2 linked regions of the Homo sapiens genome follow. The main gene of each other region encodes a partner of the protein of the gene in region 2 in a complex. Each region holds a gene or a part of one and is shown on either strand. Other genes may lie near its edges.

The links.
Region 1: RINT1 (region 2) and NBAS share a complex: the UniProt entries of both Homo sapiens proteins name them as parts of the NRZ complex.

Annotation. Positions count from the first base shown.
Region 1 is NC_000002.12:15,558,138-15,565,444, forward strand, and holds the start of NBAS (NBAS subunit of NRZ tethering complex), read right to left. Parts: upstream 3,198-7,307; 5' UTR 3,168-3,197; coding exon 3,051-3,167; intron 498-3,050; coding exon 443-497; intron 1-442. UniProt on the Homo sapiens protein: Involved in Golgi-to-endoplasmic reticulum (ER) retrograde transport; the function is proposed to depend on its association in the NRZ complex which is believed to play a role in SNARE assembly at the ER. Required for normal embryonic development.
Region 2 is NC_000007.14:105,534,989-105,542,264, reverse strand, and holds part of RINT1 (RAD50-interacting protein 1), read right to left. Parts: intron 5,701-7,276; coding exon 5,516-5,700; intron 539-5,515; exon of another isoform or gene 410-538; intron 1-409. UniProt on the Homo sapiens protein: Involved in regulation of membrane traffic between the Golgi and the endoplasmic reticulum (ER); the function is proposed to depend on its association in the NRZ complex which is believed to play a role in SNARE assembly at the ER.

The sequences.
Region 1 (7,307 bases), on a different chromosome or scaffold from region 2:
AGATCCCTCACACGTGCAGTTCACAATAGGGTTTGCACTTCCCTGATAATCTAATGCTGCCGCTTATCTGACAGGAAGTGGAGCTCAGGTGGTAATGCTCACTCACCCATCGCTCACCTCCTGCTATGCAGCCTGTTTCCTAACAGACCACAGACTGGTACCAGTCCATGGCCCAGGAATTGAGGACACCTGTTCTAGAATACATCCATAATGGTTAAACCAAAGCTATATACTTTAGCTCTAAGCTGCATTAGAGCTAAAAACGTGCATGCGTAAATATACAAATGTATACATATACATACATATGTGTGTATATATAAATATATATATAATTAAACTCAGATAACACACATTACTTTTATTAGGCTCCACATCAGAAGTCTAAAGAACACATTTTAACTGTTAACCATATCATTACTGTAGAGAAATAAGCTATATTTACCTCGAATTGCTTTCGTGATGATAAAGGATGCACCATGTTTTTGGTTGCCTCTAGGCTGGAATTTAAAACAAAAAACACTTACATTTGAATCTTCTAGTAGTATTAGACCAGTATTACTTATACAATATGTAAACTTATTTTTATTTACTAATACTCAGAGTTTTGGGCACAGGGAAGCAGTGTCTTAAAACTACTTAAAGACTGGATGTTCAGGTGCAGTGGCTCACGCCTGTAATCTCAGCACTTTGGGATGCCAAGGTGGGCTGACTGCTTGAGCCCAGGAGCTCCAGACCTGCCTGAGCAACGTGGCAAAACCTCATCTCTACAAAAAATACAAAAATTGGCCAGGCATGGCGGTGCATGCCTATAGTCCCAGCTACTTGGGAAGCTGAGGTGACCCAGGAGGTTGAAGCTACGAAGCTACAGTGAGCCCTGATCATGCCACTGCACTCCAGCCTGGGTGACAGAGTGAGACCCTGCCTCAAAAAAAAAAAAAAAAAAAAAAAAAGTAGACACAGGACGCGGGACAATAGGAGAAAAGTGAGCATAGCAGAGCTACAGGCACATGTCAGGACTAACCTTGCAGGAAAGAACAAGGATTGAAGCTGGAAACTGTTTCCAAATCAAAAACCAATCCAAAGACAAGAGAAGTCAAGGCCAAAGACCATACTGGTTGCCAGTTCAGCATACTCTATTGAGGCTGTAAGTTTTGCTCACAGGAAAAGTGGTCATATCTCCAAGGCCAATTCATTGACTATCTGTTGTGTATCTATACAGACAATGCTACTAACAAAACATACACAGATACGTAATTGCTATATTAAATAATTCCATTCCATAAGTATAGACTGAACACACCGTGGGTAGGTTCATGACGCTAGGCACTGCATAAGATGCACTAAAGTGCTGTCAAGAAAAGCACAATGGACATACAGTAAGTGTAGACAGATTTTTTTAAAAAACACAGAAAAGTTATTTCACTCAATAAACATGAATTGATTGTTGGATTCATGCAAGACACAATTTGGCCCTGGGAAGAGATATAAAGATGAATCAGATGTCTGCCCTCCAAGAGCTTATAATTCAACAGCTGAAATCAACAGAATGCAGAAATCGATAGAATGCAGAAATCAATTGAACTCCCCCACCCCCAACACACAAACACAAAACAAAGTGCTAAGGGTTTCAAAGTAAGTTAATTCTGTGGTTACTTTTTTGGAATCAATTTATGGTAAGCATTCTGAAACATTACTGCAATTAACCAATGAGTGTTAAGGAGTGGAAACTTATCTAACCAGCTGCCTCAGCAACAGCTTCCTAGCTGCATAACCCAAAAAATATTCACATTAAGACAAACTAAGTACTTGAAATTAAACAGTAATATATGCAGATCTCTACCCGTCTACAAAATAAATTATTCATGATAAGCACAAACTGCAGTGGGAAGGAGGCTACAGAGGAAAAAAATACAAACTTTGGGCTGAAAAATGAGTCGTTTCTCCAGCAAAGAAACACTCAGAAAAAATGTAAGATAACTCACATGGGCTGGACTACATAATCTTTAATAAAGGTTCTTTTCGATCTGGCTGCTTCCTCTGGGTCTAAAACAGTAACTGGCACGTGTTAAGCACTCAATAAATATCTGTTAAATAAACATGGATCCAAAAAATAATAATAATAAAAAATAAAATAAAATAAACATGGATCCATGGTTCCTACTCTTCATCACAGACCCGGGAGGCCTTCACTACCAAACAACTGATAATCCCAAGATCCAGTCCATAAATTATCAACCTCTATAACCCTTCTGTAGCGGAGATCCCAATCCCAGTCAGCAGCTCTTTACTCTGCACTTCCGTGGCATTTTGCTCACATCGCTAACTATAGCGCATAAAACGCTAGGTTATGAAAAACGTTTACGGGACTGTCTCCCCTCTAGACGAGAAGCTCCACGAAAACATATTCATCTCTGTATCCTTAGCACCTAGCACAGCACCTGTGACACCGAGACAGACGAACGGACACGCACACCCTTATTAAATGCTCTTTTATTGAAACACACAAGACCTGGCGCGATCCAGCCCCCAGTATGGGTAAAGGCTCAGATTCTGCGCTCTGCACCAGCCTGGCAGATGCTGCAGACTGTAAGGTCCTGGAAAATTCTCCCATCGCAGTTGAGCGTCGGCCCAGACTAGCCCTAGCCAGACCGCGAGAAGGGACCACTGAGGGTCCAGATAGGAGAAAGGACCCTCGAGTCCAGCGCTGTGCCTTCCCCTCCTAATACAGAGAGCGACACTAACAATCCCCTCTCCTCCCAATACAGAGAGCGAAACTGAGAACCAAAGTGGGATCGTACGCTCCCCAGAGCACGAAGTTCCAGCCCCCAACAACCGAATTCTGAGCCCAGGAAGAATCTCAGGGACCACCACCCCACCCCGCCCTAGACCCCCGCTAGCCCAAGGTGCCGTTGCCAAGGCGACCGCACAAGCCAACCGGCCCTAGTCCCCCACCCACCCGTCTCCACTCCCCTACGTGGCTCCTGCTACGTGGCTCTACCCACGAAGCGCCCGCGCCAAGCTGGCTGCTGCTGTAGATGGGCCTGGTTCACCTGTACTTCAGTCTCCGGTGGCCACTCGGTGTTGACCAACAAGTCATAGAGAATCGTCTCCTCCTCACCCTCTGCAGTGCCTGGACTCAAAGCCGGCCCTGACTCGGGGGCCGCCATGTTCGCCGAGGACTCAGGCAGCGGAGGAGTGTCTCTACGGAATCCCTCACAGGACAAGCTTCTCTATCCGCGGCCGCTTTTGTTTCACGGCAAGGAAATGCTAGGTTAACCCTTTTATGAGTAGGAAGGACAGGGACTATTGCTTGTCTTGGGAACGACTTGTGTCCCGGTCCTGATACACTCCTTGTTCATTAATCTACATGAGATCGGCCAAGTCATTGAGCCTCTCTTATAACTCAGTTTCCATAAAACAGAAATGGTAAAGGTACCCCACTGAAATGCTAATGTTCATTTGTATATTCTTTGCCTAACACGTAGAGAGAGTTCAAACAGTGGTTTTAAAATAAACAACTAAAGTTATCCAATGAAAGGTAGCAGAGGAAGGATGCTACAGGAGCTCAGAAAAGGCAACGAAGGCCAGAGTCTGCAGGGATTTCCTGGAGGACGTGGAGCTTGTCCCTGCGTCTTTAACAATAGGCAGAATTTTAATCTACTGGAGAAGCATTTCAAGTAGCGGGAAATGGAATGAGCAGAGACAGAGGCAGAAATACAGAGTTGAAAGAACTCTTTCAACGTGTCGCCAGTGAGTGACGACTTTCTCAGTGTGGGAGTAAAAGAATTTACCAAGACAGTGGTAGATAAAGAAAGACAGATTAAAGAAAGTATGAAAGTTCGTTGCCAGGGAGCAGCGGGCCGACTCAGCAGAGGAGGAGCTCATTGCTAGGAAACAAAGGCTTGTTGAGAATTTTATAGACTGGAACTTGGAGTGATTGATAACACCAGGTAGCAGGGAGTTAACTTGCTTTTTTTTTTTCTTTCTTTCTTTTTTTTTTTTTTTTTTTGTCAGCTGAAGTGTTTCAGAAATTGAGGCATTTGAAGGTAAGCAGGAAGTTTGTGAGTTAAGTACGTTATCTGGGTAGAAGGGCCATATGTCCTGGGCCATAAAGAAAAGTAGACCTATGGCTTATTTGTTTCTTCCTTTTGTTTATATGTTTTGGACCATGAAGAAAGACAGACGTATAGCTAATTTGCCTTATCTCTTTGTTTTTCCCTGCTCCCACTAGCCTGCCTTTTTTTTTTTCCTAATTAGTACTCAACAAGACGGGTGAATAGAACCCAAGTTGAGAAAGGGTGTAGGGGCAATAAAGTTGAAATAATAGGTTGAGAACCCGCATGGAGGGAGCGAAAAGGTCAACCCCATTTGTTCATTCATTCATTCATTCAACAAATACCTCTTTGTGGACAGTTATAAGCAGAGCCTACTGTAACATGAATGAATATATACTGTACAAAGTATTACACTGTTTCACATCAAAAGAAACACAAATACTGAATATCCCTTGAGATAATTATATTCATGATATCCATCAAGATGCATTAGGCGGTGATGCAATTAAAAGCCTCTGCTGGGAAGCCTCTAACCAGCTCCCATTTCTCTCAAAGTTTAATGACCTCAAAGCCCTACGTCATCTGCCTGCTCCCCTAAATCTCACACCTCATTTCCTGCTCCCCCTACTACCTTCAGCCACACTGGCTCTATTTCTGAACACACCAGACACACATCAACTTCAGGAGTTCTGCAAAGCCTGTCCCCTCCACTTGGAAGGCTTTCTACCAGATGTTTACCTGGTTCCTCCCTTATCTCCTTCAAGTTTTTGCTCAAATGTCGTCTCTCTCTGAAGCCTACCTTGACTGCTCATTTTTAAATTTGCAATGACCATTCTCCAACTCCAGCTTTCCAGAGCTGCTCTATTATTTTTTCCATTACACTTGTCATCACTTAAATGGCTATACAGTATATTTGCTTATTATCTGTCTCCATTCACTAAAAGGTAAGCCATGCCAGGTGCTCTATCTATATGCATGCAAATGCTATATCCATCCCTGCTATATCCCCAGAATTTATAACAGTGCCTGGCATAGAGCAGAGGACAAAATATATATTATTTGTTGAATAAATGACAGACTTCCCAGAAAATCTTTTACACATTGTCTCCCCATAGTATTTCTCTGCATAGCAGCTGTGCCCTTCAATCAAACCCCTCATTGTGAACACCAGACGTGTCTTCTCCCTACCGCACAAGGCTGACAAACTGTATACCTCCGGGGAGCCCCGCCCACATTGCATGCGGTAGAACATGAAGAGGCAGGAACACCATGCACATGGAATGCGGTGTGAGGGCTGGTTACTGGAGTCCTCCAGTACCTCAGTACAACCCCACCTATTTCTCCACACCAAGTTTCCTTGGCTCTTTATTCCTCTGTCTCATCCTTTCTCAGATAGATATTGGGGTTGCTTTCTGTTTCATCACTCTCTTCACCACTTTCACTCAATCTGTACAACCACGGCCAGGAGATAGCTGGTCAAACTGGCAAAGGATGCTTCCTTCTTAGCTGGTGTGCAAAGGGGACCACTGCAAATACACCATGAAGAATTTATTTATTTTACCATCATCACACTATTTTTGTTTGTTTGTTTTTGTTTTTGAAACAGGGTCTCACTCTTTCACTGAGGCCAGAGTGCAGTGGCACAAAGAGAGCTAACTGAAATCTCTACTTCCTGGGCTCAAGCAATCCTCCCACCTCAGCCTCCTGAGTTGCTGGGACCACAGGTGCATGCCACCATGCTGGGCTAACTTTATTATTTTTTGTAGAGATGGGGGGTCTTGGACTTCTGGGCTCAAGTGATCTGCCTCGGCCTCCCACAGTGCAGGGATTACAGGCACGCACCACCATGCCCAGCCTCACACCATGTTAATTGTTTTATCCATCCTCATCCATACCCCACTTACCATAGCATGTACAAAAGGACAGAAAACATAAACTCATGCCTGGCAGAGAGCTTCTACTCTGAAGAAACAACAACCGAAGTGTCACAGGATGAATCTATGCTATTTGGAGAGGGAGTATACATTTAACTTGAAGCAATCCCTGGAAGAAAAATTCTACTAGCAGAGATGCTCTGAGCAGGTAAGTGGGTTCTTAAACCTTCAGCACCACTAGTTAAAATCCAGAAGAGTTCCTGGAAGGGGAGAAATGTGAGGTGACCAATAAAAGGGAAGAAGATGGTAAGAATATGTATGCCACAAGAAGAACTCCAAATGTTGAATATCAGACACGGGTTGGAAAAGAAAAGACAAAGATCTGATCAAGTTCAACTGAATCAAAGGAATAGGATGACTTAAAACAGATTGAGTGGCTGAAGCCAAATTGCTACTTGGTCTTATTTACAGTGACTATATAGCAAAGTATCCAAACTGGGATATTTTTGAAAAGAAAAAGCCATGATTTTAATAGTTATGCTAGGACAACAAGCATGAAACAGGGCTGTCATGGGCAAACTGAGATGATTGTCACACTAATCCTAAACAGCAGAGTGGGTAATTTAATGAAGAGGTGGTGAGCGTTTCACAAGGATAGCAAGACTCTTCTGTTCGTCATTATTCTCTTCTTTCTTCCCTCGTGCTTGTAGTGACACTGGTCATTTTTGTCTGCCCAGGCCCTTTGCTTCCTTCGGAGACTGTTCTAGCTGCTCTTCATTCACTCAGTCAGATAATTCCTAGTGGGGCCGCCAATCCCCAAACTCTGCCCCCTTGACCCAAAGAACTCCATTCCTGCTACTTTGAGCATCAGGTTGAGAATCCTTCCCTGGGATTTTTTTTTTTTTTTAAGTGGAAATGGAGGAAAAGGCTCCTTGCCTTTTTGGGTCACAGAGTTTGAAGAATATTGGGGTTATTAGCATCCATCTTATTCATTCCAGAGAGAAAGCCTGTCTATATAGTGAAAGAATGAAACCAATACATTGAAAAAAACTGAGAAGAGAAAGAGGTAGAGACTTCATCTGATACAAGCATGCTTGAAACAAGAGACACCTGTATGATTCCATCTTCCCAGGTAAGTGATCTAGTTCATTCTCTTTTATGCTTCAACTAGTTTGAGTTTCTAGGCATTGAAACCACCCCTCTCTTGGTGTTTCTACCAGTGGAGTTTGCATTATTTATTTTACCTTAAAATATAGAATATCAGACACGGGTTGGAATAAGGATTTTACCTTATTTATTTATGTACGTATTTATTTAAGACAGGCTCTTGCTGTGTCACCCAGGCTGGAGTGCAGTGGCGCAAACACAGCTCACTGTA
Region 2 (7,276 bases):
TTCCTGGGCTCAACCAATCCTCCCACCTCAACCTCCCCAGTAGTTGGGACTACACATATGCACCACTACACCTGGCTTTTCTTTTTTTTTTTTCTTTAAATAGAAATAAGGTCTCACTATGTTGCCCAGGCTGTATGTAACCTTTTTTATTAGTTCGTTCCCTTCAAAATACACATTTTTTGTAACAGAACTGAAAATCATCCATCAAAACCTTCAAAAAAAGGTTTGATTTCTTCATCCTGTACTAATCAATCCAAACATAACATGCTGTTTTATATACACACAAATAGCAGGAAGAAGTATGCCTTTGTGTTGAAAACAATAAGTGAAACAAAAAAATAAAAATAAAATAAAAAATATATGCATACATACATATACACATACATGTAGAGAAAGGGACTTAACTCACTGGCTCCAGTAAGCATCTAGAGGTCTGCCTCCATAGGCTCAGCAGAGGATCCAGCTAGAGAAAACTTATTTTATTTTTTTGAGACAGAGTTTCGTTCTGTCACCCAGGCTGGAGTGCAGTGGCGTGATCTCAGCTCACTGCAACCTCCACCTCCCGGGGTCAAGTGATTCTCCTGCCTCAGCCTCCTAAATAGCAGGAATTATAGACACGTGCCATCACGCTCGGCTAATTTTTGTATTTTTAGTAGAGACGGGGTTTCACCACGTTGGTCAGGCTGATCTCGAACTCCTGACCTCATGATCCGCCCACCCCAGCCTCCCAGAGTGCTGGGATTACAGGCATAAGCCACCGTGCCAGGCCGAGAAAACTTATTAATACATGCTCTACCTGCTAAATATTTTCCTTCAAAGCAAAGGAAGGGCCGGGCACGGTGGCTCACACCTGTAATCCCAGCAGTTTGGGAGGCCAAGACAGGCGGATCATTTGAGGTCAGGAGTTCAAGACCAGCCTGGCCAACATGATGAAACCCCATCTCTACTAAAAATACAAAAACTAGCCAGGTTTGGTGGCACACACCTTGTAATCCCAGCTCTAGAGAGGCCAAGGCAAGAATCACTTGAACCGGGAGGAGGTTGCAGTGAGCTGAGACTGCACCACCGCACTCCATCCAGCCTGGGTGACAGAGCAAGACTCCTCAAAGAAGAAAAAAAAAAATGCAAGCTGGGTGCGGTGACTCACACCTGTAATCCCAGCACTTTGGGAGGCCAAGGTGGGTGGATCACAAGGTCAGGAGTTCAAGACCAGCCTGGCCAAGATGGCAAAATCTTGTCTCTACTAAAAAATACAAAAAAATTAGCTGAGCATGGTGGCACATACCTGTAATCCCAGCACTTTGGGAGGCTGAGGCAGAGAATTTCTTAAACCCGGGAGGCAGAGGTTGCAGTGGGCCGAGACTGCGCCACTGCCATCTAGCCTGGGTGACAGAGCGAGACTCCATATCAAAAAAAAAAAAAAAAAGGAAACAAAGATCTCATTCTAACAGGCTGAGCATCTATATTTTGCCAACATACCCCAGGTGATTCTGAATTAAGGCCAGGCTAAGAAGCACTGACTTGATGAGATGATATCCAGGCAATGCCTTTAGAAAGGGCATTTAGTGGCCAGGTGCAGTGGCTCACACCTGTAATCCCAGCACTTTGGGAGGCCAAGGAGGGCAGGTCACTGGAGGTCAGGAGTTCGAGACCAGCCTAGCCAACATGGTGAAACCCTGTCTCTACTAAAAATACAAAAATTCAGCCGGGCACAGTGTCTCATGCCTGTAATCCTAGCACTTTGGGAGGCAGAAGCTGGTGGATCACTTGAGGTAAGGAGTTTGAGACCACACTTGCCAACATGGTGAAACCCCGTCTCTAATAAAAATACAAAAACTAGCCGGGTGTGGTAGTATGAGCCTGTAATCCCAGCTACTCAAGAGGCTGAGGCAGGAGAATTGGTGAAACCAGGAGGCGGAGGTTACAGTGAGCTGAGATCGCTCCACTGCACTCCAGCCTGGGCGACAGAGTGAGACTCTGTCTCAAAAAATAAAATAAAATAAATACAAATACAAAAATGAGCTGAGGATGGTGGCGCATGCCTGTAATCCCAGCTATTCAGGAGGCTGAGGCAGGAGAATCACTTGAAACCCGGAAGGCAGAGGTAGCAGTGAGCTGAGATCACACCACCACACTCCAGCCTGGGCGACAGAGGAAGACTCCATCTCAAAAAAAAAAAAAAAAAGAAAATGGCATTTATTAAGTGAATTTTTCTTATAGTATGTGGGAAAACATATACAAATATTAGTCATCAGCAAAATACAAAGAACATTATAGAATAATTTCAATCAACAGTGATTAGATACTTATTCTGTACCAGGCACTGCGCTAGAAATATGCAGATAAACAAGACACAGCATCCGTCCTTCAGGTCACTTTGGTATATAAGAGTGTTGTAAGCAAATAATTTCAACAGTGGGATTAATGCAATAAAATAGACAGGCTATATTTAATGAATGGGCACATTAATCACCTAAAGATCTTGTTGTAATACAGATTCTGATACAGTAAGTCTGAAGTAAGACTGAGATTCTGCATTTCTACAAAGCTCCCAATCTGCCTAAACTAACATGGTATCAGCAAGAGTGGGAAAGATGGGCCGGGAGCAGTGACTCACGCCTGTAATCCCAGCACTTTGGAAGGCCAAGATCCACTTTCGGGCAGATCACCTGAGGTTGGGAGTTTGAGACCAACCTGACCAACATGGAGAAACCCCATCTCTACCAAAAATACAAAATTAGCCGAGCGTGGTGGCACATGCCTATAATCCCAGCTACTTGGGAGCCTGAGGCGGGAGAATCACTCGAACCCAGGAGGTGGAGGTTGCAGTGAGCCAAGATTGTGCCATTGCACTCCAGCCTGGGCAACAAGAGTGAAACTCCAACTCAAAAAAAAAAAAAAAAAAAAAAGAGTGGGAAAGATGGGATGGATACCAGAGATGTTGAGGCTGAACTCAGATGACTTGGTGATGGGATAGAGGATGAGAGGATGATAAGAAGGAATCTAGGACTCCTAGGCTTCAGGTCTGGGTGACAGGCAAATAGTGGTGCCATTATCTAACCAAGACAGACAAGCCTCTAAAAAATGGATCAGTATAGTTTTGGACATGCTGAATTTAAGGTTCAATAAGGAACTTCAGTAAAAGTTTCTGTGGTCATTAGGGAAACAAACCTGATTACAGTGGGTAAAAGATGAATGACAAAAAGTAGAGATAGATAACAAAGGTTACTTTCTGAAGCCTGACAATCAAAGGAAAGAACTAATACCTGCTAAAAGATCATGGGTTTTTTTGTTTCTTTGTTAAGGTTTTATGGAAAAGACCTGTCTATGTGCACATGCTGAAGGGATAGGACTGGTTGACGAACACAGGGTAAAATTATAAGAGTGACACAAGTTTACTGAGGTGGCAGAGAGAACCTGGGGTATAAGGTCTGCCTTCGACTGATCCTTTGCTGAATGAAGAGGTTAAAAATGACTGCACATAAATTTGTCGATTGTGGGATAGACTATTCAACAGACTGAATTCAATGCTACTAAATTCATGCTAGGCTTCTATTTTTTTCTGCTAGGGAAAAGGAAAGGGCAGAATGGACAGGTTGGGTAGATGTCTCAAACAGAATCTGAAAGAACAGTTGAGGGGAGTAGCAGAGGAGCTGACGTTCCCATGGAAGGACTGCTGGTGGGGCTGAAGACTCAGCCAGGGTGGCAGACCACACACATAGATTGGCATCAATCTACTCAGCTGCATGACTTCCTCCAACTGGGCCCACAACAACCTGCCTGCAGGAGTGAAAAGGCAGACAAAGCCAGGCTAAACTTGAAGACTAGCAGTAGTTGTGGTGGGAAGACAGGAAGGTGTGGAGGCCTAAGGTAATGGGGACAGGAGAATATACGATGACCAAAAACCTGGAAATAACCCACACAGAATTTACTTAACCTAATTTAGTAGCTATATGATAAAAATGTTTTATCTTGGCCGGGTGTGGTGGCTCATGCCTGTAACCCTAGCATTTTGGGAGGCCAAGGCAGGCGGATCACGAGGTCAAGGAATCGAAACCATCTTGGCCCAAGTGGTGAAACCCTGTCTCTACTAAAAATACCAAAATTAGCTGGGCGTGGTGTCGCGTGCCTGTAGTCCCAGCTACTCGGGAGGCTGAGGCAGGAGAATCACTTGAACCCAGGAGGCAGAGGTTGCAGTGAGCCGAGATCACGCCATTGCACTCCAGTCTGGGCGACAGAGTCAGACTCCGTCTCAAAAAAAAAGAAAAAAATGTTTTATCTTTGACAAACACACCATTGCCAAGTAGAGGGGCCTACTTATTTTTTTGTTTAAGCTTATACTCATTGGGTTTTTAAAAAATTATTTTAAGTGATATGTTCATTGTAAAAGAAAAAAAAACCTATAAATACATAGAAATATATATTTTTGAGACGGAGTGTCACTTTTGTTGCCCCGGCTGGAGTGCGATGGCATGATCTCAGCTCACAGCAAACTCCGCCTCCTGGGTTCAAGCGATTCTCCTGCCTCAGCCTCCCGAGTAGCTGGGATTACAGGTGCCCGCCACCACACCTGGCTAATTTTTTTTGTTGTATTTTTAGTAGAGTCGGGATTTCACCATGTGGGTCAGGCTGGTCTCAAACTCCTGACCTCAGGTGATCCACCTGCCTTGGCCTCCCAAAGTGCTGGGATTACAGGTGTGAGCCACCGTGCCAGGCCTAAAAATATTTTTTAAATACATCACTTGTCAACCAACCACACAGAAATAACCGTTACGTTATACTTCTTTTCACTTTATACTTCTCCCTATGGGTACATTTATTAAAATCTGAAATGTGGCCGGGTATAGCAGCTCACATCTGTAATCCCGGAACTATGGGAGGCCAAGGCAGGTGGATCACCTGCGGTCAGGAGTTCAAGACCAGCCTTGCCAACATGATGAAACCCCATCTCTACCTAAAATACAAAATTAGCTGGGCAGGGTGACACATGCCTGTAATCCCAGCTACATGGGAGGCTAAGGCAGGAGAATTGCTTGAACCTGGGAGGCAGAGGTTGCAGTGAGCCAAGATGGCGCCATTGTACTCCAACCTGGGCAACAAGAGCAAAACTCCGTCTCAAAAAAAAAAAAAAAAAAAAAATTGAAATGATGGTGTTTACACCATGGTATATATTTTTGTATGCCATGAAATTATTTGCTTGTAAAAGCAATTTAAAAGTCACTGTATGTTCACTAGAAACAGATTGAAAGGAAAAAAAAGTCACTCTATGAAAATCTATGTAAAATGTTAGGTCTCACTATGTTTTGAAGACAAACCATATCAGTAGGAACTTTGTCTTTTACCTAATTTGTAAAATAGGTAATACAATGTACGTTCTTAAATCCTCTTAAACAGTATATAATAGACTATTTGTCACGTTCTATATCTTTAAAATTCTATATATAATAGATTATGTTTATATTATATTGTTAAAAGTATTCCACTGATAATTATTTCAGTGAGTTTCAATACTTACCTGTTCTTCTAACTGCATTTTACTTACTGTCCTCTGTTCTATGAGTTTATCAAGTTTCTTTAAAGATTTAAGGTCATTTCCAACTTCCTTTTCTATGAATGCAGACACATAAGAAGGGAGATCACCATTATCTGTACCTTCACTGACTTGTTTACTTCCAATAAGAACTGTAACATTTATGTCACCTACAACAAAAGAATAACAATTACTCAACGCCACTAAGTACTATGGAGTTAAAGAAAATATAAAACATATAAAAGCAGTTTATCTGCCTTCAAAAGTTAATAATTTTGCCAGGCACGGTGGCTCACACCTGTGATCCCAGCACTTTGGGAGGCTGAGGCAGGTGCATCACCTGAGGCCAGGAGTTTAAGACTAGCCTGGCAAACACGGCGAAATCCCGTCTCTACTAAAAATACAAAAATTAGCCAGGCGTGGGGGCACAGGCCTGTAGTCCCAGCTATTCGGGAGGCTGAGGCACGAGAATCCCTTGAACCCAAGAGGCAGAGGTTGCAGTGAGCCAAGATCACACCACTGCACTCCAGCCTGGGCGACACAGACAGACTCTGTATCAAAAAACAAAACCAAAACAAAGCGCCACTGCACTCCAGCCTGGGCGACAGAGACTCTGTATCAAAAAACAAAACCAAAACAAAACAAAGTTAATAATTTAAAGAACAACACACACAGACAAATGCCCAGAAGAATAGCTCTAAAGCACTCTATCAAACAACTACTGCAAAATGCTTAAGAGCTGAGGGAAGTATTAAAGGAAAAATTCCTAAAGTGTGATCCAGTAACCACAGGTTTCAATAGACAAGGAATAATACCTTTTCAAAATGTGTAAGGAACCAGTAGTATGGTCTAGGGCAACACCAAAAGAAGACTCTTGTTTTAAAGTGTTTTTAAAAAGACCGGGCGCAGGGGCTCACACCTGTAATCCCAGCACTGTGGGAGGCCAAGGCAGGAGGATCACTTGAGCCCAGAAGTTCTAGACCAGCCTAGGCAACAAAGCAAGACTTCATCTAACAAAATTAGCCAGGAATGGTGGAACACACCTGTAGTCTCAGGTGGGCTGAGGTGGGAGGATTGCTTGAGCAGCCTGGGAGATGGAGGCTGCAGTGAGCCATGATCTCACTACTACATTCCAGCCTGGACAGCAGAGCAAGACCTCATCTCTTAAAAACAAACAAACAAACAAACAAAAAAGTAAAAAAGGTTTGGCTGGGCGAGGTGGCTCAGGCCTGTAATCTCAGCACTTTGGGAGGTTGAGGCAGGCAGATCACAAGGTCAGGAGTTCGAGACCAGCCTGGCCAATATGGTGAAAACCTGTCTCTACTAAAAATACAAAAATTAGCTGGGCATGGCGGTGCACGCTTATAGTCCCAGCTACTCGGGAGGCTGAGGCAGAAGAATCGCTTGAACCCGGGAGGCGGAGGTTGCAGTGAGCCGAGATCACGCCACTGCACTCCAGCCTGGGCAACAGAGTGAGACTCTGCCTCAAAAAAAAAAAAAAAAAAGGTTTTTAAGCTTCAAATGTCATCGATGTCATTGTACAAAGATATCTTTGTCAGAAACAGAAAAAAGAAAATATGAGAGAACAAATTACTAGGAAAAAATCAAAATGACAAATGCAACCACTAAATAGTATAAAGTGAGATTCTTTCCATGGCAAATAAACTACCTGTTTTGTGACATTTAATAAGTCCAATACACATTAGGCTTATTAATATTAATATCTAAATAATGATATGCCTAAGT